Regions from separate parts of the Homo sapiens genome. Here regions 1 and 2 are each linked to region 3. The links come from fine-mapping of genetic effects on gene expression. A gene starts in region 3. Each other region holds a variant in brackets. All regions are shown on one strand. Distances are from middle to middle.

Region 1 (8,000 bases), 32 kb after region 3:
TTCTACCGCTCACTGCAGGACACGTATGGTGCCGAGCCCGCAGGCCCGGATGGCATCCTAGTGGAGGTGGATCTGGTGCAGGCCAGGCTGGAGAGGAGCAGCAGCAAGAGCCTGGAGCGGGAACTGGCCACCCCGGACTGGGCAGAACGGCAGCTGGCCCAAGGAGGCCTGGCTGAGGTGCTGTTGGCTGCCAAGGAGCACCGGCGGCCGCGTGAGACACGAGTGATTGCTGTGCTGGGCAAAGCTGGTCAGGGCAAGAGCTATTGGGCTGGGGCAGTGAGCCGGGCCTGGGCTTGTGGCCGGCTTCCCCAGTACGACTTTGTCTTCTCTGTCCCCTGCCATTGCTTGAACCGTCCGGGGGATGCCTATGGCCTGCAGGATCTGCTCTTCTCCCTGGGCCCACAGCCACTCGTGGCGGCCGATGAGGTTTTCAGCCACATCTTGAAGAGACCTGACCGCGTTCTGCTCATCCTAGACGGCTTCGAGGAGCTGGAAGCGCAAGATGGCTTCCTGCACAGCACGTGCGGACCGGCACCGGCGGAGCCCTGCTCCCTCCGGGGGCTGCTGGCCGGCCTTTTCCAGAAGAAGCTGCTCCGAGGTTGCACCCTCCTCCTCACAGCCCGGCCCCGGGGCCGCCTGGTCCAGAGCCTGAGCAAGGCCGACGCCCTATTTGAGCTGTCCGGCTTCTCCATGGAGCAGGCCCAGGCATACGTGATGCGCTACTTTGAGAGCTCAGGGATGACAGAGCACCAAGACAGAGCCCTGACGCTCCTCCGGGACCGGCCACTTCTTCTCAGTCACAGCCACAGCCCTACTTTGTGCCGGGCAGTGTGCCAGCTCTCAGAGGCCCTGCTGGAGCTTGGGGAGGACGCCAAGCTGCCCTCCACGCTCACGGGACTCTATGTCGGCCTGCTGGGCCGTGCAGCCCTCGACAGCCCCCCCGGGGCCCTGGCAGAGCTGGCCAAGCTGGCCTGGGAGCTGGGCCGCAGACATCAAAGTACCCTACAGGAGGACCAGTTCCCATCCGCAGACGTGAGGACCTGGGCGATGGCCAAAGGCTTAGTCCAACACCCACCGCGGGCCGCAGAGTCCGAGCTGGCCTTCCCCAGCTTCCTCCTGCAATGCTTCCTGGGGGCCCTGTGGCTGGCTCTGAGTGGCGAAATCAAGGACAAGGAGCTCCCGCAGTACCTAGCATTGACCCCAAGGAAGAAGAGGCCCTATGACAACTGGCTGGAGGGCGTGCCACGCTTTCTGGCTGGGCTGATCTTCCAGCCTCCCGCCCGCTGCCTGGGAGCCCTACTCGGGCCATCGGCGGCTGCCTCGGTGGACAGGAAGCAGAAGGTGCTTGCGAGGTACCTGAAGCGGCTGCAGCCGGGGACACTGCGGGCGCGGCAGCTGCTGGAGCTGCTGCACTGCGCCCACGAGGCCGAGGAGGCTGGAATTTGGCAGCACGTGGTACAGGAGCTCCCCGGCCGCCTCTCTTTTCTGGGCACCCGCCTCACGCCTCCTGATGCACATGTACTGGGCAAGGCCTTGGAGGCGGCGGGCCAAGACTTCTCCCTGGACCTCCGCAGCACTGGCATTTGCCCCTCTGGATTGGGGAGCCTCGTGGGACTCAGCTGTGTCACCCGTTTCAGGTGGGGTGAGGGGCTTGGGGAAGAGACATCCTTGTGTTGGGCATTAACTGCGGTCTTGGTGCCAAGCCCAGTGCTCTGTGGGGTCTCTTTTAGTATGCAGAGCAGCCGGGTGGGGCAGAATGGATTCTCTCCATTTTTAAGATGAGGATGTTGAGGCTCAGAGAGGGGCAGCCACTTGCCACACAGCAAGTGAGAGGCAATGGCATTCTCCCAGTCAATATTTGAAGGCCCGCCATGTGCCAGTCACTGGGGTATGTCTAGAATCTGAGACTGACCTGGGCTCAAATTTGTTTTATTCTTTCCACCCCCTGAGCACGCCACCGTTTTCTTATGCTAAGAGTAAAGCCATGGCCTCCCCTTGGACTCTCTGCCTCCATTCTCTCCTCTTCCACTCCATTTTGTATTCAGCAACCAGACCAATCTTCTCAGAACTTGAATCTGATTGTATCCCATCCCTGCTTACAATCCTTCAGGGACACTCCACCACTGTCAGGATGAAGGCTAAATTCCTTAATTTGGTTTCATTAAGTCGGTCTGCAATCTGCTTGAGCATTTCAGCTTAATCGCCAGAGGATTGCTTCCATATTTCCCCCTAAACATACTTTACCCAAGCTGTAAGGTCCTACATAATTGTGCCAATAATTTAGCAGTGAGCTTCCTGGTAGCCGAAGCAAAAAGGGAAAGAAAACCACTGTGTGAGTTGTGAGAAAGTAGGAATCAATAAAGGCTGGAGTGGTCATGGAAGGCTTTCTGGGAAAGGTAGAGGTTGAGCTAAGGAAAGAAAGTATTTTAATAGGTAGGAGGACCCTTCATGGAGCTGCCCTTCCATTAAGGTCTAGCCTGGTCACCGTGCCTGGGTCTGAGGCCCTCCCTCCACAGGGCTGCCTTGAGCGACACGGTGGCGCTGTGGGAGTCCCTGCAGCAGCATGGGGAGACCAAGCTACTTCAGGCAGCAGAGGAGAAGTTCACCATCGAGCCTTTCAAAGCCAAGTCCCTGAAGGATGTGGAAGACCTGGGAAAGCTTGTGCAGACTCAGAGGTGAGAGGAGAGGCGGATGGGAGGTGGTTCACGCCATGCAGGTTGAGGACATGTAGGACCCATTCTCAAGTTTGTCATGGGCATTTCCAGTGCCCCCTGTCCTCTGGGACACCCCATGCCCTCTTTCTGGGCAATGGCTAACCAGAGTCTCTCACTGCACTCGCTGCCCAGGCGGAGCCTCTAGAATTGAAAACTTTGCTGCATTCAAAACCTGCCATCATGTGCCCAAGTCTTAGCTAAAGCCATGGAGAACCTCTCCCCTTCTAGGAGTTAACAAGGATGCCTTGTGCACCTAGTAACAGAAGTGACACCTACTGCCACCCTTTGAGGCATTTAGGACAACTGTTGTCCCAAATTTATAGACGGCAGAGCTAAGGTCCAGAAGGCAGACAAAACTTGATTACAGAACAAGTTAACTGTCTTTCATTCATTCCTTCATCACACATTGTTTGAGCGCCTCTTAAGTGCTGTCTGGGATAGGTACTGGTAAGTGCCTAATCTGAGGCTCATTTCCATGAAAGATACAGTCCTGAGATCTTTTATTTTTATTTTTATTATTTCTTAAAGACAGGGTCTCGCTGTGTCTACCAGGCTAGAATACAGTAGTGCGATCATAGCTTACTGTAGCTTCGGAACTCCTGAGCTCAAGCGATCCTCCTGCCTCAGCCTCCCAAGTAGCTGGGATTATAGGTGCACGTCATCACACCGGATGATTTTTTAAGTTTTTGTAGACACAGGGATCTTGCTATGTTGCCCAGGCTGGTCTTGAACTCCTGGCCTCAAGCAATCCTCCTGCCTCAGCCTCCCAAAGTGCTGGGACTACAGTCACGAGGCACCGCACCCAGACAGATCTTTTTTTTTAAGAGGGGGACAACAGTTGCCCCAAGGAAAGCAATCCCCCTGGGGAATTTGGGGCACTGGGGCAGCCATCATGGGACCCATGGGTAAGGGCTCAGTGACAGCAGTGCCTGCTCCCCCTAACATTGCCTGTTCTCTCCAGGACGAGAAGTTCCTCGGAAGACACAGCTGGGGAGCTCCCTGCTGTTCGGGACCTAAAGAAACTGGAGTTTGCGTAAGCAAAGGGGTGGATTGTCTTGTGGGTCTGCGCAAGGTTTCCCCTGCAGCATTAGCTGGGCTTGTACCACCTGAATGGAGATAGATCTCCAGAATCATTCTTACCCTCTTGCCCACCACTTTGGAAATAGCTTCCAGCAGCTGGAAAGTGACCAGTGTGGGCAAATGCTGGAGGTTCTCAGATTTGAAGCTAATGGACCCGTTTGCTGGTTAACATGGTCATTCCCATCACTCATTCAACAGAGGTATTGAGCACTTGAATGACTGAGGCTGCTGTCCTCATGAGCTGACAGTCTAATCAACTCCCCTCTGGAGGAGGTCAGGGGGACTTCCTGGAGGAGGTGATATCTGCACTGAAGCTTCAGTGAGGATAAGGAATGAGCTGAGTGGGGAGAGGGGAGTAAGAAAGGCTTTCCAGGAATTGTAATTTCGCCAGGGATCAGAAAAGGCCCAATGTGTCCCCAACCTTCCATAGGAGGATGCCACTATGACTATGGAGTCCTTTTCCCTCCTGTGGCCAGGAACTGCACAACGTCCCTTGTGCCTGAGCTTGTTTACTTCCACAGCCAAGGGATGGCCTCCCCAGGGAGAATCTTTCCCCCATTTTGAAATTCCCAGGAGCTTTTGATGTGCAGCTAGGATGAAAAAGCAACCCTACTTGCCTGGGACTATCCTGGTTTGAAAACTGAAAGTCTTGCATCCCAAGAAGCCCCTTAGTCCCAGGCAAACTGGGACAGTTGGTTGCTCTATGTGTGGCCAGGGCTGGGGGC[C/CA]ACACCCTAGGCAGTGTTGCTGGGGTGACAGAAATGGAGACCTAGGCAAGGCTCTAGGGAGTCCAGTTGTGTCTGGGTCACTGAGGAGGGGCAGCCCACCATACATGGGCCCCAAGAAAGCACAATAATTATTATATTTAGATCTGTCAGAATATAGCTTTTCTTTCTTTCTTTCCTTTCTTCTCTCTTTCTTTTTCTTTCTTTCTTCTTTCTTTCTTTCTCTCTTTCTTTCCTCTTTCTTTCCTTTCCCTTCCTTTTCTTTCCTTCCCTCCCTCCCTCCTTCCTTCCTTCCCTCCCTCCCTTCTTCCCCCTTTTCTTCTTTTTCTTTCTCTCTGTTTCTTTCTTTCTTTCTCTCTCTCTCTCCCTTCCTTCCTCCCTCCCTATCTCTCTCTTTCTTTCTTTCTTTCCTTCTTTTCTTTCTTTCCTTTCTCTCCTTTCTCTTTCTTTCTTTCCATTCTCTTTCTTTCTCTTTCCTTCCCTCCCTTCCTTCTCTTCCTTCCTTCTTTTTCCTTTCCTTTTCTTTCCTTTTCTTTTCTTTCTTGAGGCAGAGTCTTACTCTGTCCCTCAGGCTGGAGTTCAGTGGCACAATCACAGCTCACCACAGCCTCAACCTCCCTAGGCTCAAGTGATCCTCCCACCTCAGCCTCCCTAGTAGCTGGGACTACAGGCATGCCCCACCTGACTAATTTTTGTATTTTTTGTAGAGACAGGATTTCACCATGTTGCCCAGTCTGGTCTCGAGCTCCTGGGCTCAAGCAATCCTCCCACCTCAGCCTCCCAAAGTGCTAGGATTACAGGTGCGAGCTCCCGCACCTGGCCAGAACAGGCTTTTAAATTTGCAGCTCACCTTCCATCTCAATTATCTCAGGCCACCCTCCTCTACAGGCATTGTCATCATCTCCCCATTGTACAAATGGCAATGCTGAGAACAAGAGACTTTAAATTGTTTATCCAAAGTCATAAAGGTCAGGTCAGCCTGGCCCTAAGCTCCTTCCACAGAAAAAGCTAAATGAATGTTTGTTCCTTGGTAGGGGTCTAGATCATCTAATGATTAGGAAGGAGTTGTTATGCCTGTGGTATATTCGGTGCTGTTTTTTTTTGGAGATGGGGTCTTGCTCTGTCACCCAGGCTAGAATGCAGTGGTATGATCTTGGCTCACTGCAATCTCCACCTCTCGGTTCAAGCAATTTTCCTGCCTCAGCCTCCCGAGTAGCTGGGATTACAGGTGTACACCACTACACCTGGCTAATTTTTGTATTTTTAGTAGAGACGGGCTTTAACCATGTTGGCCAGGCTGGTCTTGAACTCCTGGCCTCAGATGTTCCTCCCACCTCAGCCTCCCAAAGTGCTGGGATTACAGGTGTAAGCCACCATGCCCAGCTTATAATTCAGTGCATTTTATATATAATCTCATTAATCTCAAGAGCTACTGTGGAAGACAGACAGTCATCATCTTCCCCATTTTACAGATGAGGAGACGGAGGCCTGGTGAGGTTAAGTGACTTGCCCGTGGTCCCCCAGCTGGTCACCCACAAGCTATCAGCTCTCCCTGATCACTGCTCCCCTGTGCCCCAGAAAAAAGCCAGTGTCTCTTGTTTTGAACAGAGACAAGGTGCTAAATTTGTCCAGAGGTAAAAATGATGCTGAAAAGGGGAAATGTCTGAAAACAATAACTGAGGGCCCTTTCTGGCCTTAAATTATTTTCAGCTGAAAAAGCCCCTAGTTCAAGATCGGAACTGCGCTCTGGGGAACAGCGGCCATGGGGTGGAACAGCCTAGAGCCGGGTGATCAGCCACCTGGAGACCGGAAGCCCCCGAGGAGGTTCTGAGGAAGGAAGGAAGGAAGGAAAAGACTATTTCTGGCATTTTCTCAGGCTTCTACTGTGCCCAGGCACCCTGTAGACCTCATCTGTCTGTCAAATCAGGGTTCTTAGCCACTCACAACCCTACAGGGACTTCGTTTGTACACAGAGTCCTTCCCCAGTTCAGTCCCCACTCACCTGTTCACCCTTATCTCCTACACTCGCTGGGTGCTCTCTCCATTCCAGCCACAGGGCCTCCTTGCTGGCTTTCAACCTCCTAGGCATGCTTCTGCCTCCAGGCCTTTGCACCGGCTGTGCCCTCTGCCTGGAATACTTCTCCCCAGATATCTGCATGGCTCATGCCTTCACCTCCTCTGGTCTTTACTCAGTGAGGCCTTTTCTTTTCTTTCTTTCCCTGTTTCTTTCTTTCTTTCTTTCCCTCCTTTCTTTCTTTCTTTCCCTTTCTTTCTTTCTTTTTCCTTTTTTCTTTTTCTTTTTTTGAGGTGGAGTCTCGCTCTGTCACCCAGGCTGGAGTGCAGTGGCACAATCTCGACTCACTGCAACCTCCTCCTCCCAAGTCCAAGTGATTCTCTTGCCTCAGCCTCCCGAGTAGCTGGGACTACAGGCACATGTCACCACATCTGGCTAATTTTTTGTATTTTTAGTAGAGACGGGGTTTCACCGTGTTAGCCAGGATGGTCTCAATCTTCTGACCTCGTGATCCCCCCACCTCGGCCTCCCAAAGTGCTGGGATTACAGGCGTGAGCCACCACACCCGGCCTCAGTGAGGTCTTTTCTGACCCTCACAGTTAAAAATAAAACTCTGGCCAGGCGCAGTGGCTTATGCCTGTAATCCCAGCACTTTGGGAGGCCGAGGCAGGTGGATCACAAGGCCAGGAGTTTGAGACCAGCCTGGCCAACATAGTGAAACCCCATCTCTACTAAATATACAAAACAAATTAGCTGGGCATGGTGGCAGGTGCCTGTAGTCACAGCTACTTGGGAGGCTGAGGCAGGAGAATCATTTGAAACCGGGAGGCGGAGGTTGCGGTGAGCTGAGATCACGCCACTGCAGTCCAGCTTGGATGACAGAGTGAGACCCCATCTCAAAAATAAATAAATAAATAAATAAATAGAACTCCATTCCCCTCATGGTTAAAAAAAAAACTCCATCCCCCTCACCACTGTATATTTCCATATGATTCATTGTCTCAGACATCAGCTTGCTTTCCGATTTCTTTGATTATCTGTCTATCTTCCCCCCTGGAATGTCAGCACCCAGAAGGCAGGGATTTTCGTCTGTTTGGCCCACAACTTTCCTCCCTGGGCCTGGCACATAGTAGGCAAGCGGTCAATATTTAACAACGAATGCCTTAATCCAAGAACCCCCATAAGATTGGGGTGAAATATTTGAGGAGATCAAGACTTAAGGGTGAAGGGATTTGCCAAGGCCTTTAGCAGGGAGCCAAATGCCAGATCCTGGAGTCAAACTCTGATCCTGTGGCCTTTTGCTGAGGCCAGTGTTCTCAGACTTCAGGATTTCAGAGGCCGAGAACATTTCGGAATGAATTCGAGTGACCGTGCGCGGTTACTGTTTTTTAATGTTTATCAAGGATGCTCATTCAAACAAACAAATAACAACAAAATACCCACTGCTGGCACCATAATTTTACCAAAGAA
Region 2 (10,526 bases), 48 kb after region 3:
CTCCGCCTCCCGAGTTCAAGCAATTCTCCTGCCTCAGCCTCTCAAGTAGCTGGGAGTATAGGCATGTGCCATCACACCCGGCTAATTTTGTATTTTTAGTAGAGACGGGGTTTCTCCATGTTGGTCAGGCTGGTCTCAAACTCCCGACCTTAGGTGATCCACCCGCCTCGGCCTCCAAAGTGTTAGGATTACAGGCGTGAGCCACTGCACCTGCTGCTTTTATATGCAGCCCTGCAAGGGAGTTCTGAGGCTGAATCATGGCAAAGTCATGGCCCTGAAATCATACCCGCAGCAGCACCTGACCTGTTAAAAGGCTGCTTGGTGTCGAGTAAACAGCTGAAGTTGGCATCAGTGACACTCATCATGCTATTTTCACTGCTACTAATGCTGGTTGTGAATATGCTGCAGAAACTGGAGCTGGTCCAGTGACTGGCTTTTTCTCTTCCTGCCCCCAGTGCTGGTCACACCCTCTATGTTAACTCATGCGACCCTCACCAATGTTCCTGTGATGTAGTCAGAACCATAGCTAACATTTAGTTCATTCTAGGCACCAAGGCATGTTCTAAATGTTATATCAGCATTGATTCATTTACTCCTCCCCACAATGACTCTATCATGCCCATTTTACAGATGGGCAAACTGAGTCTCAGAAGAGTTGAGTAGCTTGCCCAAGGTCACATAGGCAGTAAGAGGCATAGCTGGGATTTGAACTTGGGAAGTTGTTCTGACAGTTTCCACACAGTAAGGCAAGAAATGACTTCCTTTTAGTCCTGCTGTTTTCCTGGGCTCACTGTTTGACCACAGAGAAGTGGTCTCAACTCTCTGGGTCTTGGTTTGCCTGTCTTTAAAATGGGGCAGTAATCCCAGTAGGTGGTGACTCCCACGGGGCTGACCTCCAGGCTGCAGGGGACACTGAGATCCTAGAAGCAATCACCACAGCCCTGAACAAGAGAACTAGTGGGACCTGGGGACAGAAACTTTGAGCAAGTCACTTATTCATTCCTAGCCTCTATTTTCATATCTAGAAAATGGGAACCATCCCAATGGCCTATGTAAGTACTTGGCACAATGCCAGGCTCTGTTGTGCAATAAATATTGATTCCTTCCCCCAGGGATAGTGGGACCAGGCTTTTTCTGGAATCTAGGGATGGTGGCTTCTGGAAGGCTGACCATGCACAGGCCTCCAATCCCTCCCCCTGGCCTCTGTTTCCGACAGCTTGTACAATAACTGCATCTGCGACGTGGGAGCCGAGAGCTTGGCTCGTGTGCTTCCGGACATGGTGTCCCTCCGGGTGATGGAGTGAGTGTGGGAGTCTGGGCGGTGGGTGGCTCAGCCCGGGGTGGGAGACACTGAAGTCTCTCCCTGGTGTCCTGGAAGAGCTGGATGTGGGGGTGGCCTTGGTCTGGAGCTGGGGAGTCCCAAGGGCCAGGCCCCAAGGTGAGTTTCTCTTGCCAGCGTCCAGTACAACAAGTTCACGGCTGCCGGGGCCCAGCAGCTCGCTGCCAGCCTTCGGAGGTGTCCTCATGTGGAGACGCTGGCGTAAGTCCAGGCAACCCTGGTGGGTGGAGAACAACTCACTCCCCAGGCGTGTGGCCCAGTGTGACCCCGGAGCTCAAATCATGCTCTTCCCTTCACCAATCTGCAACCCTGGGTGAGCAGACACTTCCCCCTCTGGCTTCAGCTTCTTCATCTGTAAAGTGGGGACAGTAATAATATCCACCCAAGAGGTTTTGTGAGGCTTAAACTAATCAAGCCCTACAAAGCTCTTATAACAACAGTAGCTGGCACACAAAAATGCCAATAAATGCTATATTAGGCTGAACCATATGAAATTGCTGACATCCACCCATTTTTGACCTGTAAAATTGGCAATTTCATATGGTTCAGGTTTATCTTTTATTAAGTCACCATGATGTCCAATACTGGTTACTTTATATTCTTTCAAAGCACTTTTATCTCCACAATCACTCACCTCTTCTAAGACGCACAGGGTGGGTCTTACAAGACCCATTTTACAGATGAGGAAAATAAAGCACAGAGCAGTTAACTAACCTTTCTGGGGTCACACAGCAAGTCAGCTGCAGAACCATAAAGGAATCTCGGGCCTCCTAGGCTTCTCCTTTTCCCCATGACCCACACCGGTCGGTATCTTGCCAGGGGAAAAGTCCCCAACGTTCTAGGCTGGGTGGAAGGAGGGATTTGGGGGCAGCTGTCACTGGGGCCCCAGGCCGCCCTCTCTCCTCTAACCTGGCTCTGAGTCCCATCCCCCCTTGCAGGATGTGGACGCCCACCATCCCATTCAGTGTCCAGGAACACCTGCAACAACAGGATTCACGGATCAGCCTGAGATGATCCCAGCTGTGCTCTGGACAGGGTAACCAGGGTGGGCTTGGGAGGGGAGAGCCGCAGTGGGTTGGGGGCAGTGTCCTTGTGAAGGTGGCATTCAAAAAATGTGGGCGGGACACAGGTGGGGCTAGGCCACCACCCTTGGACGCATGCGTCATCAGAGACATCCCCTCATCTCCACCCTGGGCTCGGTGGAGCTGTCCTCCAGGCTTTGCGAGCTTGGTCCCTGTGGTCAGGCTTAGAGATCAGGGGACAGGAAAGTTGGCCATCCACATCCCACAGCCTCAGTGCTTGGAAGAGCTTCCTTTGGGGACTCCAAGCCTTCCCAGCTGCTGTTTCGGCTTGGTGGCTGCCCTGATGCTCCGGGTTTGTCTCAGATGAACTTGCTTGACAAGTCTCCTGCTCCTCACTATGAAGATCACTGTCCCCCAGCCCTGTGCTCCCCGCACTGTGCTGCACGTCCACCTCCATTCCACTGCCCCTCCCATCCCCCCATCTTGATAGCACCCTTCCCAGGTGTCAAGCTGCCCCTCCTAGAGTGTCCTGCCTAAACCCCCTCTCCTGGCTCCTCCCGCTACAGCATGTTCTCTGAGGACACTAACCACGCTGGACCTTGAACTGGGTACTTGTGGACACAGCTCTTCTCCAGGCTGTATCCCATGAGCCTCAGCATCCTGGCACCCGGCCCCTGCTGGTTCAGGGTTGGCCCCTGCCCGGCTGCGGAATGAACCACATCTTGCTCTGCTGACAGACACAGGCCCGGCTCCAGGCTCCTTTAGCGCCCAGTTGGGTGGATGCCTGGTGGCAGCTGCGGTCCACCCAGGAGCCCCGAGGCCTTCTCTGAAGGACATTGCGGACAGCCACGGCCAGGCCAGAGGGAGTGACAGAGGCAGCCCCATTCTGCCTGCCCAGGCCCCTGCCACCCTGGGGAGAAAGTACTTCTTTTTTTTTATTTTTAGACAGAGTCTCACTGTTGCCCAGGCTGGCGTGCAGTGGTGCGATCTGGGTTCACTGCAACCTCCGCCTCTTGGGTTCAAGCGATTCTTCTGCTTCAGCCTCCCGAGTAGCTGGGACTACAGGCACCCACCATCATGTCTGGCTAATTTTTCATTTTTAGTAGAGACAGGGTTTTGCCATGTTGGCCAGGCTGGTCTCAAACTCTTGACCTCAGGTGATCCACCCACCTCAGCCTCCCAAAGTGCTGGGATTACAAGCGTGAGCCACTGCACCGGGCCACAGAGAAAGTACTTCTCCACCCTGCTCTCCGACCAGACACCTTGACAGGGCACACCGGGCACTCAGAAGACACTGATGGGCAACCCCCAGCCTGCTAATTCCCCAGATTGCAACAGGCTGGGCTTCAGTGGCAGCTGCTTTTGTCTATGGGACTCAATGCACTGACATTGTTGGCCAAAGCCAAAGCTAGGCCTGGCCAGATGCACCAGCCCTTAGCAGGGAAACAGCTAAT[G/A]GGACACTAATGGGGCGGTGAGAGGGGAACAGACTGGAAGCACAGCTTCATTTCCTGTGTCTTTTTTCACTACATTATAAATGTCTCTTTAATGTCACAGGCAGGTCCAGGGTTTGAGTTCATACCCTGTTACCATTTTGGGGTACCCACTGCTCTGGTTATCTAATATGTAACAAGCCACCCCAAATCATAGTGGCTTAAAACAACACTCACATTTATTCTGCTCACATATCTGTCATTTGAGCAGGGCTCAGCGGGGACAGCTCCTTCTGTCCTACTCTGTGTCAGGTGGGGCAGCTTGAGGGTTGGGCTGGTGTCACCTGAAGACTCATTCTTCTGTACGTCTGACAGGCAATGCTGGCTGTTGGCTGGGGGCCTCAGTGCCACTACGGAATAGTTGGCTAGGACCCCTCCATGTGGGCTAGTTGGGCTTCCTCATAGTATGGTGGCTGGGTTGGAGGGTGTCCCAAAAAGAAAGGAGGGGATAGAGAGAGACCACTTTTCATAACCTAGCCTTAGAAGTCACACAGTATTACTTCTGCTACATATATATGTTTTAAGAGGCAGGGTCTCACTCTGTCGCCCAGTCTGGAATGCAGTGGTATGATCACGGCTCACTGCAGCCTCAACCTCCTGGGCTAAGTGATCCTCCCACCTCAGCCTCCCGAATAGCTGGGACTACAGGTGTGAGTCACCAAGCCCAGTTAATCTTTAGTTTTATTTTTGTAGAGCCAGGGTCTCACTATGTTGCCCAGGCAGGTCTTGAACTCCTGGCCTCAAGTGATTCTCCTGCCTCAGCCTCCCAAAGTGCTGGGATTACAGGTGTGAACCACCACACCCAGCCCACTTCTGCCATATTCTGTTGGCCAGTGTGACAAGGATTGCTACTGTCCTACCCACCCTCCTTTCACCACATGTGCACATGCACGTGTGTGCACGTACACACACATACACACACACGCGTGCACACACCAGAGCCCACCTTGGCTCAAGTCCTCTTTTCTGAGAGGACTTTTCTTTGTGGCTTCCTAAAATTCAGTGGAAAATTAATTGTTTGGGGATGAGAAAGGTTGAAGCACCAAAAGCTTACCAAGGGGAATGTTTGCCTCTGCCTCTGACACACAGCTCTGTCCTGGGAGTGAGCTGGTTTTTAGCGGAGACGGAGTCCCACCTTGGCTGCAGGGAGTCCGAAAGGGACTTGGAAGCTCCGCTTTCTACCCAGCGAGCTGCCGGCACGACTGTTGCTTTTCACTCGGGCATAGTCTGCTCAGAAGCCCCAATTCAAGACATCTTAGCTTACTCCTGGTGGCAGTGGGAGCTGCCTGTTCAGCTCCAGCTCACCAGCCCCAGTGCCCACAGGATCAGTCTGATTCCCAAGCTCTGCTCCTCTCCCCAGCAAGTGAGAGCTGGGTGTCAAGAGGGTCTGAGGAATCCAGACCCGGCTGCGTGGTTGATGATCTTTGCAGACAGGCAAGCACCTCCTGCCTCGAACTGGCTGCAAAGGGTATCAGGTGCTGCCATCCAGGTTCAGCTTGTAAATAGCTCAGGTGTCACCCTGCAAGGGATCCCTGCACTTGCAGACTCTACAGAGGCCATGGGCCTCCTGTGTGTGCGCCTACAGGAGTGAGCACTAAGGTGTGCTCTGATCATCCACTGTGCCATGTGCCAGGTTTTTGGTCTGACCCACTGCTTTTGGTCTGTGTGATGATGAAATGAGGTCAGAGCCTGCAGTTATTAACACTAACGATTTGTTAATGATAGCTACTGTTTATTATTTTATTTAATTTTTTTGAGACAGAGTTTTCACTCTTATTGCCCACGCTGGAGTGCAGTGGCATGATCTCGGCTCACTGCAACCTCTGCCTCCTGGGTTCAAGCAATTCTCCCACCTCAGCCTCCCAAGTAGCTGGGATTACAGGCATGCACCACCACGCCTGGCTAATTTTTGTATTTTTAGTAGAGATGGAGTTTCACCATGTTGGCCAGGCTGGTAATCTGCCTGCCTTGGCCTCCCAAAGTGCTGGGATTACAGGGGTGAGCCACCGCACCCGGCCACTACTGTTTATTTAATGAGCAGATACATGCAAAGCCCTTATCACAGTGCAAGGGAAATTCAAAGCGCTCAGAAAGTATTAGCTCAATAAGTGATGACTGTGTGCCAGACACTGTGCTAAACTCCTACTCAAGAGGGATAAGAGTCTAGGGGCAAGTGGCAGAGACTCTAGAACGAGATTGCCTGGGCTCAACGCCCACCTCACCACTTACTTATGCAAGCTAGTTCTCTGTGCCTCAGTCTCCTCATTTGTAAAATGGGCATAACCACAGCACCTTCTTTATAGGATTATGTGAAGGTGTGGTGAGCTAATACGTTAAGAATTGGAGCTCAATAACATGTTGGCTGTCATTATTACATATATCTGTGTTTCATTCTTGCCTCTGGCTGGAATGTTCTTCCCAGCTCTCCATATGGCTGATTTCTCATCCTTCGGGACTTGCCCCATTCTCCAACCCCATCACTAGTTTTATCTTTTTCACTTATTTATGCAGTCTGCTCTTGTCCTAGGACATGAGCTCCAGGAGGGCGGGAAACATCTCGCTTTGTACACTGCTGTGCCCTCTGTACCCAGCAAGGCGCCTGTGTATAATAGGTGCTCAATAACATAAAATGAACAAATAATCCTCACCTAACGGTTTCATTCATTCTGCAAATACATACTGACAGCACAGTCATGAATAAGATGTTCCTGCCCTGGTGAGTCTTATATTTTAGCAAATTAAAAAAACTCTTTGGACAGGGCTGCCAGGTGAGGTTGGCCAGTCTGTACACTGCACAAAGGCACCTGGGACAAGGGGGAACATGGGGGCTGCAAACCAGTCTGGGTTCTGCTTGCCAAACTGGGAGTCCTGGTGTGGAGCCTTTTAACCCAGAGGGGCATCTTTTCGTAGTTAACGCACAGTCATCGTAAGATGTGGATAAATTACTGTCTCCGTGTCACAGATCTAAGTGATACTTATAGTCACACTCCTATAAAGGAATGGACTTCTGACTTCTTTGGAGGACCTCTCTGCAGGGACAGGCACAGTGTGCCGGAAGTGCCCCTGAACCCCATTTGTCAGGTGGTAAAGCGCTGCTCGGAGGAATCAGGGCATGATAGTGCAATTCCATGTCCAGTGGATTGTAAGTCCACGCACCTTCCAAATGGTCACTCTTCCTCGCAGGCCTCTCTCTGCATACAAATGTCTCCCTCCTGACGCTCACCTTTTTCCCTGGGGCTCTCAAATGTCTTCTTTTCAGATTTCGTAGCTTTTCTTTCTTTAGCATCACTTGAGGGCAAGTGGTGCTCCAACTGTCTCCCCCCAGAGTTCTGCCGCCTGTACTCTCCCACACCTCAGTCTCCTCGCCTGTAGAAAGGGGTCAATCGTTTGAACCCTGCTTCACTTGGTGTGTATGTGAAGGTGCTTTGAAATCAAGTGCTCTGCAAACTGGAGAGAATTACTGCTTGTATTCCGTGAAACTACAAGCTCCCAATTCCACTCATTTAATCCCTCTCTTGCTCTGTTGCCCAGGCTGGAATGCAGTGGCATGATCTCAACTCACTGCAACCTCTGCCTCCCTGGTTTCAAGCAATTCTCCTGCCTCAGCCTCCCGAGTAGCTGGGACTATAAGTGTGCGCCACTATGCCTGGCTAATTTTTTTGTATTTTTAGTAGAGATGGGGTTTCACCGTGGTGGCCAGGCTGGTCTCGAACTCCTAACCTCAAGTGATCTGCCCGCCTCGGCCTTCCAAAGTGCTGGGATTACAGGCATGAGCCACCATGCCAAGCCCTTCCCCCCTATCTTTAATGAAGGTCTACCATGTGCCTGACACAGGGGATACCCACCCCCACTTCTATGGGATTCAGGCCTGGTTTCCAGCTTGGCCTTCAGGCTTTTCCCACCACACCCCAAATGCTGTCCCTGGCTTGTGGAGTGGGGCAGGGGGCCAGCCTGGGACTTTCACGCCAGCCCGACTGGGGCAGACTCTCTCAACCCCACTGGATCTTCTGCTGTTTGTCAGCCACAAGGTTCTGCCTAGAACTCCTTTCCCGAATCTCAAAGTTAAAAAAAAAGGCAGGGCCCCAGGGGTTGGAGTTGCATACATTTTTTTTTAATCCAAAGAAGTAAGCCTCCTAAGTATTGCTTAGACAGGTTTATCAGAATTAAGTAGGCACAACACTCATACTTTCAGAAAAGCATTTCCAGCCAGGGGAGTAACGTGGCACTCACCAGCATGATGTCTGTTTTGCCAACTTGCTGAAGAACGAGTAACCTGAAATGAAGGAGCGAGAATCCCACCCTCAGCCCCCCAACAGCTTCCTCAGCTTCTTTTTCTTCTGAGTCACCCCTGAAACAGTCGCTGCATCTAAGACCAGCCTCGGGCTAAACCCAGCTGGCCTGAAGGCTCAACTCACATCAAACGGAGCTGGGAGTCGCTTTTGCGTGTGTCCGCAGTTTGAAGTGTCCTCTCCGAAGGTGAAGTGGGGGAAGCAGGTGCGCTCCGGGATGAAGTGCAGGGAGGCAAACTCTGGCTGGGTTCCTGTAAACATCCATCGCAGCTGCAAATAATCAGAAGCCAAGGCCAGGCCATCGATTTGACACTGCAGGCAGATGAGGTCTTGGGATGCCTCTTGCGTTCCCCCTTCTGTGGGAGCAGGTGCCTTCCCAACCTCAGCACTCAGTCCCAATCTCTCTTCCACTCTCCTGGGTTCAAACAGGAACCTCTCTGTTGGCACGAAGCTTTTGAGGGGAGCAGGTCTAACAAGAAGGAAAAAGGGGGGTTATTAGCACGGAAGCCCCACCCTGCCACCAGGTTGGCTGGGGACAGGGACCAATCCACCAGGCTCGGGAGGCTTGGGGTGGGGCAGGGAAGTCTTCCTCCATCCCTCAAATTTAGGGAACCACTGGGAGCCCCAGACTCAGGCTGAAAATGTCTTTCTGCAAATATAAAACTCTTTTTAATGAATTTGCCTAATTTCTCAGAGACCCTGGGCTGGAGAACCAGTGCAATGTCACACGGGAGAGGAAGGACTGTCCTGTTTATTGGGAGGGAGGAGGGGGATGCTGGTGCAGCCTGCTCAGGAGTCACCCAGGGTCTGAGGGCTGACTTGCAGCTCTGGGCCAGCTGAGCCAGCGCTGGGTAGTGGGCAGGGCTTGGCAACACCTTCCACCTTGCCCGGAAAAATGCTTTGCAACCTACAGGAAGGCAATAGCCACAGCCAAGTTACTCAGCAGCCCCACTTGGCTCTTTCTCCCAGGATGCAGCATCATCTCCATGGCCTGGCCCCCTGGCACGTCCCCGTTTCCCACTGCCTTCTCTGTGTGCCTAGCCGGGTGCCAGTGTCTCTGTAGCACCTCGTGTTCCCATGCCCAACCCCTCTGCAGCCCCCTCAAGCCCTGCTCTGATTCCAAGCCTCATCTCCCAGCTCACTATCCTTTCCGCAAACTTCACTGAACATCTCGCAGAACTTGTATGTTAAACATGTGACATGTATTGTTGTTTGACAGGGTGCTATTGACATTTGGGGTAGGACAATTCTTGGAGGTGGGGTGGCTGTTCTGGGCACTGAGCATTTAGCAGCATCTCTGGCTCCAGGCCACTAAATGCCAGTAGCACCCCTGGCCACTGGAACAACTAAAAATGCCCTCCTACCCTATTTCCAAGGTCGACCTAAGGGGGCGGAACTGTTTCCATTGAGACCCATGCATCGTATAGGATAAGAAACTGAGGTTCTTATCATTTAATAGGATAAGAAATTGAGGTTCAGAGAAGCCAAGTAACCTGCCTAAAGATGCACAGCTATGAGAGGCAAAGCTGGCACTGGCTTGGTAATAACGATGGAAACGGTCTGAATGAGAGCAGGTACCATTTCCTGAGCTCTTAGCAGACGCTGAGGACCCTGCTAAGTGCCATGAGACCTTAGCAGAGGCTGTGGGTGCCCCGCCCCATTCCCTCCACTCACTCTTCCTTGCAGGTCGACCTGCCCTTCTTTGCTGAGGCCTTTCTCTGCCTCCAGAGCCTGCTTGGTCCTCAGGCTGTAAGTGCAGGCAGAGCTAATGTCTCTCCATAGCTGCCCTCCACCAGCCTGCTCCTGAGACACCTGCTGGCCAGCAGCCTGAAGCAGAATCCTTTACTCAGATTCAGCCGCACAGATGCTCACTGCAGAGATCTCCAAGGCCTGTGGTCATCCTTGAGCCCATCTCAGATTTGTGTGGATAGGGTGTTAGAGAACATGGAATCAGCTGGATAGAGTGGTTCATGCTTGTAATCCCAGCACTTTGGGAGGCTGGGGTGGGAGGATCACTTGAGGCCAGGAGTTTGAGACCAGCCTGGGCAACACAGTGAGACTGTCTCTATAAAAAATTTAAAAATTAGCCAGGCATAGTGTAGTCTCAGCTACTTGGAAGGCTGAGGCAGGAGGATTGCGTGAGCCCAGCAGTTCAAGGCTGCAGTGAACTATGACTGTGCCCCTGCACCCAGCCTGGGTGACAGAGACCCTGTCTCAAAAAAAAGAGAAGATGGAATCACTCGGTGAGGACCTCACTCCTCTCCCAGTCCTGTGACCACAAACCGCATCCCCGACAGTCCCAGCCAGGCGCTAGTCTGGCTGTAGCTGCCCTCTTGTGTGCAGATCTCCAGTCTGAATGGGCTACACGTGGAATTTACTAACACTC
Region 3 (8,000 bases):
GGAGTGCAGTGGTGTGATCTCGGCTCACTTGCAACCTCCACCTCCCCCAGGTTCAAGCAATTCTCCTGCCTCAGCCTCCCAAGTAACTGGGATTACAGGCGTGCACCACCACACCTGGATAATTTTTCTATTTTTAGTAGAGACAGGGTTTCACCATGTTGGCCAGGCTGGTTTCGAATTCCTGACCTCAGGTGATCCGCCCGCCTCAGTCTCCTAAAGTGTTGAGATTACAGGCGTGAGCCACCACGCCCGGCCTGCAGGAGTCTTTAAGAGGCAGGAACAAGGATGCAGGTGTTTCAACAGAGAGGAAGCCTGGGGTGGGCTTCATTCCTCCTCGTGCTCTTTGCCCCCATTCACTCAGTGCTAGAGGTTGTCATTCTGCCTCTGAGACATCCGGCCCCCTCCCTCTCCATCCCCACACCCTCACCTGCCACAGCTGAAATCCAGGTGTGCCTCAGCTCCTGGCTGGGTACCACTGCCACTCATCTGTAGACTCTCTACCCTGGTGCCTTCAGGTGCCAAAGTGCATCCTCTGCCATCAGTCAAACACACAGTTTGACGGATGTCACTTGCTCTGCTCAGAGACCTGCACCGACACAGGCATGGTCAGGTTCAGGTCTTGTGGACAAGAACTGGGTCTGGAGGAGTCAGGGAAGATGTAGATGAGGAAGGTGGTACTGAAACGAACCTCTGGTACAGGGAAGATGTACCAGGCAGCTGCAGTCACCCAGGTGAGAGATGGTAGTCCTGGCTGGCCCATTCTAAGTTCCAAAGCTGCCTTGGCCATCGGTCTGAGGGTGGGATGGGGGGACATCAGAACCAGCTGTCTCTGAGAACATAAAGGGACCCCCATATGGGACCTCAAGACAGCTGAGCAGTCAGAGGCGCCTCTCCCGTGGCACCAGGTCATAGGATAATGAGACTTCTTAGAATTTCTTTCTTTTTTTTTCTTTTTTTTGAGACTGAGTCTCACTCTGTCACCCACGCTTGAGTGCAGTGGCACTATCTAAGCTCACTGCAACCTCCACCTCCCGGGTTCATGTGATTCTCATCCCTCAGTCTCCCGAGTAGCACACGCACCATCACGCCCAGGCTAATTTTTGTATTTTTAGTAGAGAAAGGATTTTGCCACGTTGGCCAGGCTGGTCTTCAACTCCTGACCTCAAATGATCTGCCCACCTCAGCCTCCCAAAGGACTAGGATTACAGGCATGAGCCACTGTGCCTGGTCATTCTTAGAATTTCTGACATTCACCATATCCGTTTGTTAGCCCCACTAAGCAAGGCTGTTTCAAATTGACTCAGCATTTCTTATTTGTCAATTTCTACCCCACTCCTCACCCGGGGACTTCTGAAAACAGTGAAGGCTTCAAAGTAATCACCTTACAAAGAAGGGCATCATCCTCATTTCACACATGGGGAAACTGAGGACCACAGAGAGGAAGTAAAGAGGCCAAGGTCACACACCTGCTACTAAGTTCCCCGTCCAGTGCTCTTTCAGCAAAAATGCATGAGGCACACAAGTCATGTTTCCAAACCTTCATTTCAGTACCACCTTCATCATTTTTGTGTTTTCCACATAACACTTTACTATTATTTATGACAGGGTTTTTTTTAACCACTCACCTTTTTTACTTATCTTTCTTTTCTTTTTCTTTAGGAGAGGCAGGATCTCACTCTGTTGCCCAGGCTGGAGTGTATTTCATGATCATAGCTCACTGCAGCCTCCAACTCCTGGGCACACTCGATCCTCCCACTTCAGCCTCCAGAGTAGCTGGGACTATAGTTGTGCACCATCATACATGGCTAATTTTTAAAAAATCATTTGTAGAAAAATTAGCTGGATGTAGGAGAATGGCGTGAACCCAGGAGGCGGAGCTTGCAGTGAGCCAAGATAGCGCCACTGCAGTCCAGCCTGGGCGAAAGAGCGCGACTCCGTCTCAAAAAAAGAAAAAAAGAAAAGAAAAGAAAAATTAGCTGGACATAGTGGCAGGTGCCTGTAATCCCAGCTGCTCGGGAGGCTGAGGCAGGAGAATCAGTTGAACCCAGAACCCGGGAGGCGGAGGTTGCAGCGAGCCAAGATCATGCCATTGCACTCTAGCCTGGCAATAAGAGTGAAACTCCGTCTAAAAAAAAACAAAAACAAACAAAAAAAACCCCAACAATTTGTAGACATAGGGTGTCACTATGTTGCCCAGGCTAGCCTCCAACTCCCGGCTTCAAGCAATCCTCCTGCTTCGGCCTCCCAAAATGTTGGAATTACAGGCACAAGCCACCTGGCCCAGCCATCTACTTTATATTCAAATAAAACTTTACGTCCCATTATAAAGGGAAAAAATGGCAAAAACAGGAGGTAACCATTTAACAAGAAAGCAGAGTGATGTTAGATTATAGCAAGATACTGTTGACTGTAGAAGGCTCTGAGGCTAGAGAGCTGCTTTCTATAAAACAGAGTGATCATATATTAGAAGAGGTGTTAAAGACATGTTCACACCAAGCTGAGACTTCCTCCTTGATACCACCAGGAGGATGGGCAGAGACTGGAAAAGACACTAACTTTCTCCCTATGGGAGTCAGTATTATTTAGCATCACTTTGGCGGGTCACCCCAAACCATCTGACTACAAGGGTACCATATTTGGGTTAACACTCTTTTGGTATAATTTATGTTTTAGTCCAATGTCTTGGGATGAAAATGACAGGTGGGCCACTTATGATCTCCAGAGAAATTCAGGGCAATTTGGTGTGGGAGTAGGCATGGTAGAGGAGAGCAGCATCTAAGAAGTCCCCAGCAGAGGCTCTCAGCTTGTCTTGAGGCATCTGGGCGGAGGGCTATGATACTGGCCCCATCCTGCAGAAGGTGGCAGATATTGGCAGCTGGCACCAGTGCGGTTCCATTGTGATCATCATTTCTGAACGTCAGACTGTTGAAGGTTCCCCCAACAGACTTTCTGTGCAACTTTCTGTCTTCACCAAATTCAGTCCACAGTAAGGAAGTGAAATTAATTTCAGAGGTGTGGGGAGGGCTTAAGGGAGTGTGGTAAAATTAGAGGGTGTTCAGAAACAGAAATCTGACCGCTTGGGGCCACCTTGCAGGGAGAGTTTTTTTGATGATCCCTCACTTGTTTCTTTGCATGTTGGCTTAGCTTGGCGGGCTCCCAACTGGTGACTGGTTAGTGATGAGGCTAGTGATGAGGCTGTGTGCTTCTGAGCTGGGCATCCGAAGGCATCCTTGGGGAAGCTGAGGGCACGAGGAGGGGCTGCCAGACTCCGGGAGCTGCTGCCTGGCTGGGATTCCTACACAATGCGTTGCCTGGCTCCACGCCCTGCTGGGTCCTACCTGTCAGAGCCCCAAGGTAAAAAGGCCGGGAAAGCATCTTAATTTAGCGTGCAGTCTCAGCTGGTCCTGCCATTCCAGATAAACAGAGAAACCATTCTGAATTGGGGATGGGGGTGAGGATGGGAACAGGAGTCTGTGTCCTGCTGGGGCAGGCCATTGGAAGATGTGAAAGAGTTGTCTATTTCCTTCCACCGGAGGGAGACTTCAGGTCAGCCAGGTGTCTGGAGTATGAACCATGTATCAGCACCGAAAGGTTCTAGAAGTCAGACTTTCGGGCAGTGTGTCACTAACTCTCAGCATGCTGGCCTGGCTCGGCCCACAGCAAGGTCTTCTCGCCTCCCTTTGGGTAAATACTGAGGGGTGCCTCTGCAGGACGGGACCTCTGCCAGACTCCACTCCATACCCAGAGAAGCAGGGAAACCAAAATTGGAGTCAGCCTTGAGGTGTAGCTGTTGAGCCCTCAGCAGCTGGGGAGAGCTGGCGGATGCTGCCCTCCCCCCAGTTTCCTAATGGTGTTGTTTAAAAAGGGTCAGGGGACGGGGGAACAGATGGTGGGAAGAGCACAGTGCAGACACCTGGCACCGGCTCTGAAGGCAGCATGGCAGCTACACCGTTGGCTGGGAAGGGTGTGCCCCTGAAGAAGTCGTTTACATTCTCGAGTCAATTTTCCTGGAGTGTACAATGGACCTGTGGGAAAGCCTGTATGAAAGGGTAATGATGAGGGACCTAGCACAGTGTCCAATATTTTATAGGAACTGGAATTGAGCTCATAGGAGCTCAATTTTATTGGCATTGCTGTTGTTGGATGGTTAAAGGGGTGGTATCCCTTTTCTCAGACTCCCCTGAAATGTATGGTTTGCTTTGAACCCAGAGACTGATGACAGGTCTGCCGGTGTGGTTGGGTGCAGCCTTAAGTTGCTACGGGAAAGTGTTGGAGGGGGAGAAGTCAGAGGTAACCTTGCCCCCTCCCTCAATTCCAGATGAGGAAATTCAGGCCTGAAAAGGGAAAGTGACCACCTCAAAGTCTCATGCCTTGGAGGACCCAGCAGGAATCCAAGACCTCTGAAAAGGACCGGCAGGGCTCTTGCCACGGCTGGGGGTGTGGTCATGGTAACACAGGTTTTCCATCCATGGAAGGTACCTGAGGGATTTTCTCTTCCTCCCTAGGGCCAGCATCAGAGGAGTGAATAGCTCAGTTAGCTCATCTCAGGGGCCATGTGCCCTCGGAGGTGGTTTGCCACTTTCACGGTTGGACTGAGTTGGAGAGAAACAGAGACCCACCCAGGGGTGGGGACAAGCTCCCTGCAACTCAGGACTTGCAGATCACTTGCCCAAGTGGCTCCCTAGCTCCTGGCTCCTGGCCCGGGGCCTGGGACTCTCCCCGAAGTGGGGCTGGCCACTGTGAGGAACCGACTGGAGGCAGGGACCTCTTGGATGCCCCAGGCAGTTGGGATGCCACTTCTGATAAAGCACGTGGTGGCCACAGTAGGTGCTTGGTTGCTCCACAGCCTGGCCCGAGCTCAGCGCTGCAGAAAGAAAGTGAAAGGGAAAAAGAACTGCGGGGAGGCGGGGAGGTAGGATGACCAGCGGACGAGCTGCCACAGACTTGCCGCGGCCCCAGAGCTGGCGGGAGGGAGAGGCCACCAGCAGCGCGCGCGGGAGCCCGGGGAACAGCGGTAGGTGACCAAAGTCTCCTCTGTAACCCCTAAGGTCGGGCTGAGAATCGAGGCTCCGAGACTGTCAGCTACTTGCTCAAGGTCACACAGCAAGTCTGGGAGGATGGGGGGATGGAATATGCAAAATGTAGGGCCGGGAAACACCTCGTTTCCAGCATCCCCGCAACGACTCTGCGCGGGAACCAGGAGCCGGGAACCCGGAGCTTGGCTTGCTGTGCCCAGAGCTCCGGGGCCGTGGGCGGGTGGCAGGAAAGCCTGGCGGCAGCTTCTGCAGAGAAGCCGGAGCGCAGACTGGGAGCGCGGAGCAGACACACTCCCCCGGCCACCCTTGGCCGACTCCGCGCGCCCGGGATCCTGCAGAGGTGCGCGCCCTTCTTGTACGCCAGACTTTGGACCAGGGCCGCCGTTCCCTGAGCTTCACTTTCCCTGTTGGGTCATATTCCATCTCTAACTCTGGAATCTTGGGTATTGGGCTCTCCAGGCGGGGGGCCCTGCTCAGGGAGGCAGTAGGGAGCCAAACCTTTAACCAGAGGATGGGATAAGTCCTCAACTCTCGTTGAACATCTTGGCGAAGGTGTGTGTTGTTGGGAGGGGTGGGGGAGGGATCCCCCCGGACTGAACCGATCTCTTGATCTCTCACTTCTCTACCTCGCTTTGGGGCCCTGAGTCACACCCTCTAAGGAGAGAGGCTAAAGCGCCCCGGAAAGCCAGCGTGCGAATGCCGGGGTGGGAGTGGGAGATTGGATCTCCCTGGGGTCCAGGAAAGCCGGAATCGGAGCCACCATGCTTAGCTTAGTCTGGAACTCTTAAAAGCCGCGGTCCTCCTGAGTCCCACAGCCCCTCTCCACCCTAGGTGGCACAGGAGAGGTGGCAAAAGCCTAGAAGTTCAAGGCATGGCTCCCTCCCCAGCCGCAGCCTGGAGTGTCTAACTTTGGCAGGAAGTCTTCCGTTTCTGCTCCCCACTCCAGAGAAAAAATAAATAAATACTTCTCCGGAGTGAGATTAAGGAAACAGGTACTTCTTCCTCTTGGAGAAAGAGGAGCCAAAGGAACTTGACTCCAACAAATGATCACCTTGCAAACCCCCGGCTCCCTTAGGGGATGACCTGGTCTCCAACAATCTCAGAGCGTTTGGAGGCAGGGTCTTTGGAGATGACTGAGTGGGGAATCCCAGGCTCCCCACACATGAACATCACCTGGGATGATCAACCTGTTCAGGATGTAGGTTCCCGGGCTCACCCCCAGGCCCGGTTGGCTAGGCCTGGGGTGAGGCTGAGATCCTGCAGGTTAAACCATCTATCCCAGGTGACTCCAATGTTCGTTTGTGGGGCAAAAGTCCCTCAAGTCAGAGACACTGGGAGGCGCTGATGTGGTCTCATCTCTTTACTCTCTCCCTGTTACAAAACCTCTATCAGAAAAGGAGTACCAGGAGGTGTTTTGTTTTGTTTTGCTTAACGCCACATAGCAAGCAGTTTGCAGACGCAGGATTTGAACCCTGGTCTACTGAGAGCCCAGCCCAGTGCAGCAAGCAGATGTGAACCTCCACAAATGCAGGGCAGGTCCCAGGCAGTCAGAGAGAAACCTGTTGATACCCAGTCTGTCTGATGGCTGGGGCTTGGTTTCATGTCCTAAGACCCAGCCTCAGATACCTTGAGAAGAGCAGAATCAGAAATTAACCCAAGGAAACTCTGGATTAGTTCCAGGCAATCAGGGAAGTGGCTGGAGGGAGGTAGGAAACTTCTGGACTTAGCCTCAGATTTGCCTTGAGTCACACTGACAAGTGACTTCCCCTCTCTGAGGTTCATCTGTAAAATGGATAAAACATGAGAGCTTGCTTGATGATGTCTGATGTGTACAGAAAAAGCACTTTAGAAAACCACCAAAGAATATTCATGCATTGGGAATAATTATTATAGATCCTAAAGGGATTGTTTAGAAAGATCAGAGAGGGGCCGGGAGCAGTGGTTCACACCTGTAATCCTAGCACTTTGGGAGGCCGAGGCGGGTGGATTGCTTGAGGCCAGGAGTTCAAGACCAGCCTGGGCAACCTGGAGAAACCCCAACTCTACTAAAACACTTTTTTGTGTTTTAGCCGGGCATGGTGGTGCACACCTGTAATCTCAACTACTTGGGAGGCTGAGGCACGAGAATCACTTGAACCCAAGAGGCGGAGTTTACCCGAGAGGTGGAGGTTACCCGAGAGCTGAGATTGCACCACTGCACGCCAGCCTGGGCAACAGAGCAAGACTGTCTCAGGAAAAAAAAAAGAGAGAGAAAAAAGTCAGAGAGGAAAGCATAGGCAGATGGGAGGTTTCCAAAGACCAAGACACACACAGTCAAAAGACAGTTCAGAAAGGGGCATTAGTTACCACCGATTCTCATAGGAAGGACATAGATAGTTTTCAGATTCCTTCAATCCTTCTGACATCAAGGACAAAGTCTCTGATTTTCCCTGATGTTTGACAGTGCCCTAATGCTTGCTAAGATTTCTTTTTAACAAAGTGGTAAAGAAGCTGAGATTATTTTAGTAACATTGTTTCTTTTTCAACCACAAGTGATACTGTTGGTTTGGTTTTGCTTTTCCGTTTATACATGGAAAAAAAAGTTTTCTTTTTGTAAAATCATGGTAAAATACATATAACATAAAATTTACCATTTTAACCACTTTCAAATGTACATTTCAGTGGCATTAAATATTTCAAACTGTTGTGCAACCTCCGCTACCATCCATCTCCAGAACTTTTTCATCCTCCCAAACTGAAACTCTACCCAATAAGCAATAACTCCCCACTGCCCCTTCCACCCAGCTCGTGGTAACTCCAACTTCCTGTCTCTATGTTTTGGGCTACTCTAGACACCGCCTATAAATAGAATTACGTGATATTTGTCTTTTTGTGCCTGGCTTCTTTCACTTAGCATAATGTCTTCCAGGTTCATCCATGTCGTGCCATGTGTAATTCCTTTCTATGGCGGAATAGTATTCTAAT

What was found.
Region 1: its variant is fine-mapped to the expression of CIITA in whole blood (INTERVAL, PIP 0.97).
Region 2: its variant is fine-mapped to the expression of CIITA in whole blood (TOPMed, PIP 0.95).

What each region holds. Positions count from the first base shown.
Region 1 is chr16:10,906,513-10,914,512 of GRCh38, forward strand. It overlaps CIITA (class II major histocompatibility complex transactivator), which reads left to right. Exons shown (of 20, transcript NM_000246.4): 11 at 1-1,637; 12 at 2,517-2,675; 13 at 3,676-3,747. Among named protein-coding and RNA genes, the nearest start is that of DEXI, 32 kb to the right of the region's middle. RefSeq lists an enhancer at 5,896-5,945. The variant C/CA (reference allele first, on the strand shown) is at 4,520.
Region 2 is chr16:10,920,951-10,931,476 of GRCh38, forward strand. It overlaps CIITA (class II major histocompatibility complex transactivator), which reads left to right. Exons shown (of 20, transcript NM_000246.4): 17 at 1,217-1,300; 18 at 1,457-1,540; 19 at 2,278-2,375; 20 at 2,928-10,526. The coding sequence ends at 2,353. It overlaps DEXI (Dexi homolog), which reads right to left. Exons shown (of 2, transcript NM_014015.4): 2 at 7,941-8,609. Among named protein-coding and RNA genes, the nearest start is that of DEXI, 16 kb to the right of the region's middle. RefSeq lists an enhancer at 9,673-9,722. The variant G/A (reference allele first, on the strand shown) is at 3,816.
Region 3 is chr16:10,874,029-10,882,028 of GRCh38, forward strand. CIITA (class II major histocompatibility complex transactivator) reads left to right here and starts at 3,174. Exons shown (of 20, transcript NM_000246.4): 1 at 3,174-3,354. The coding sequence starts at 3,303. RefSeq lists enhancers at 2,788-2,867, 3,198-3,267, 3,308-3,387, 3,428-3,477, 4,898-4,947 and 2 more.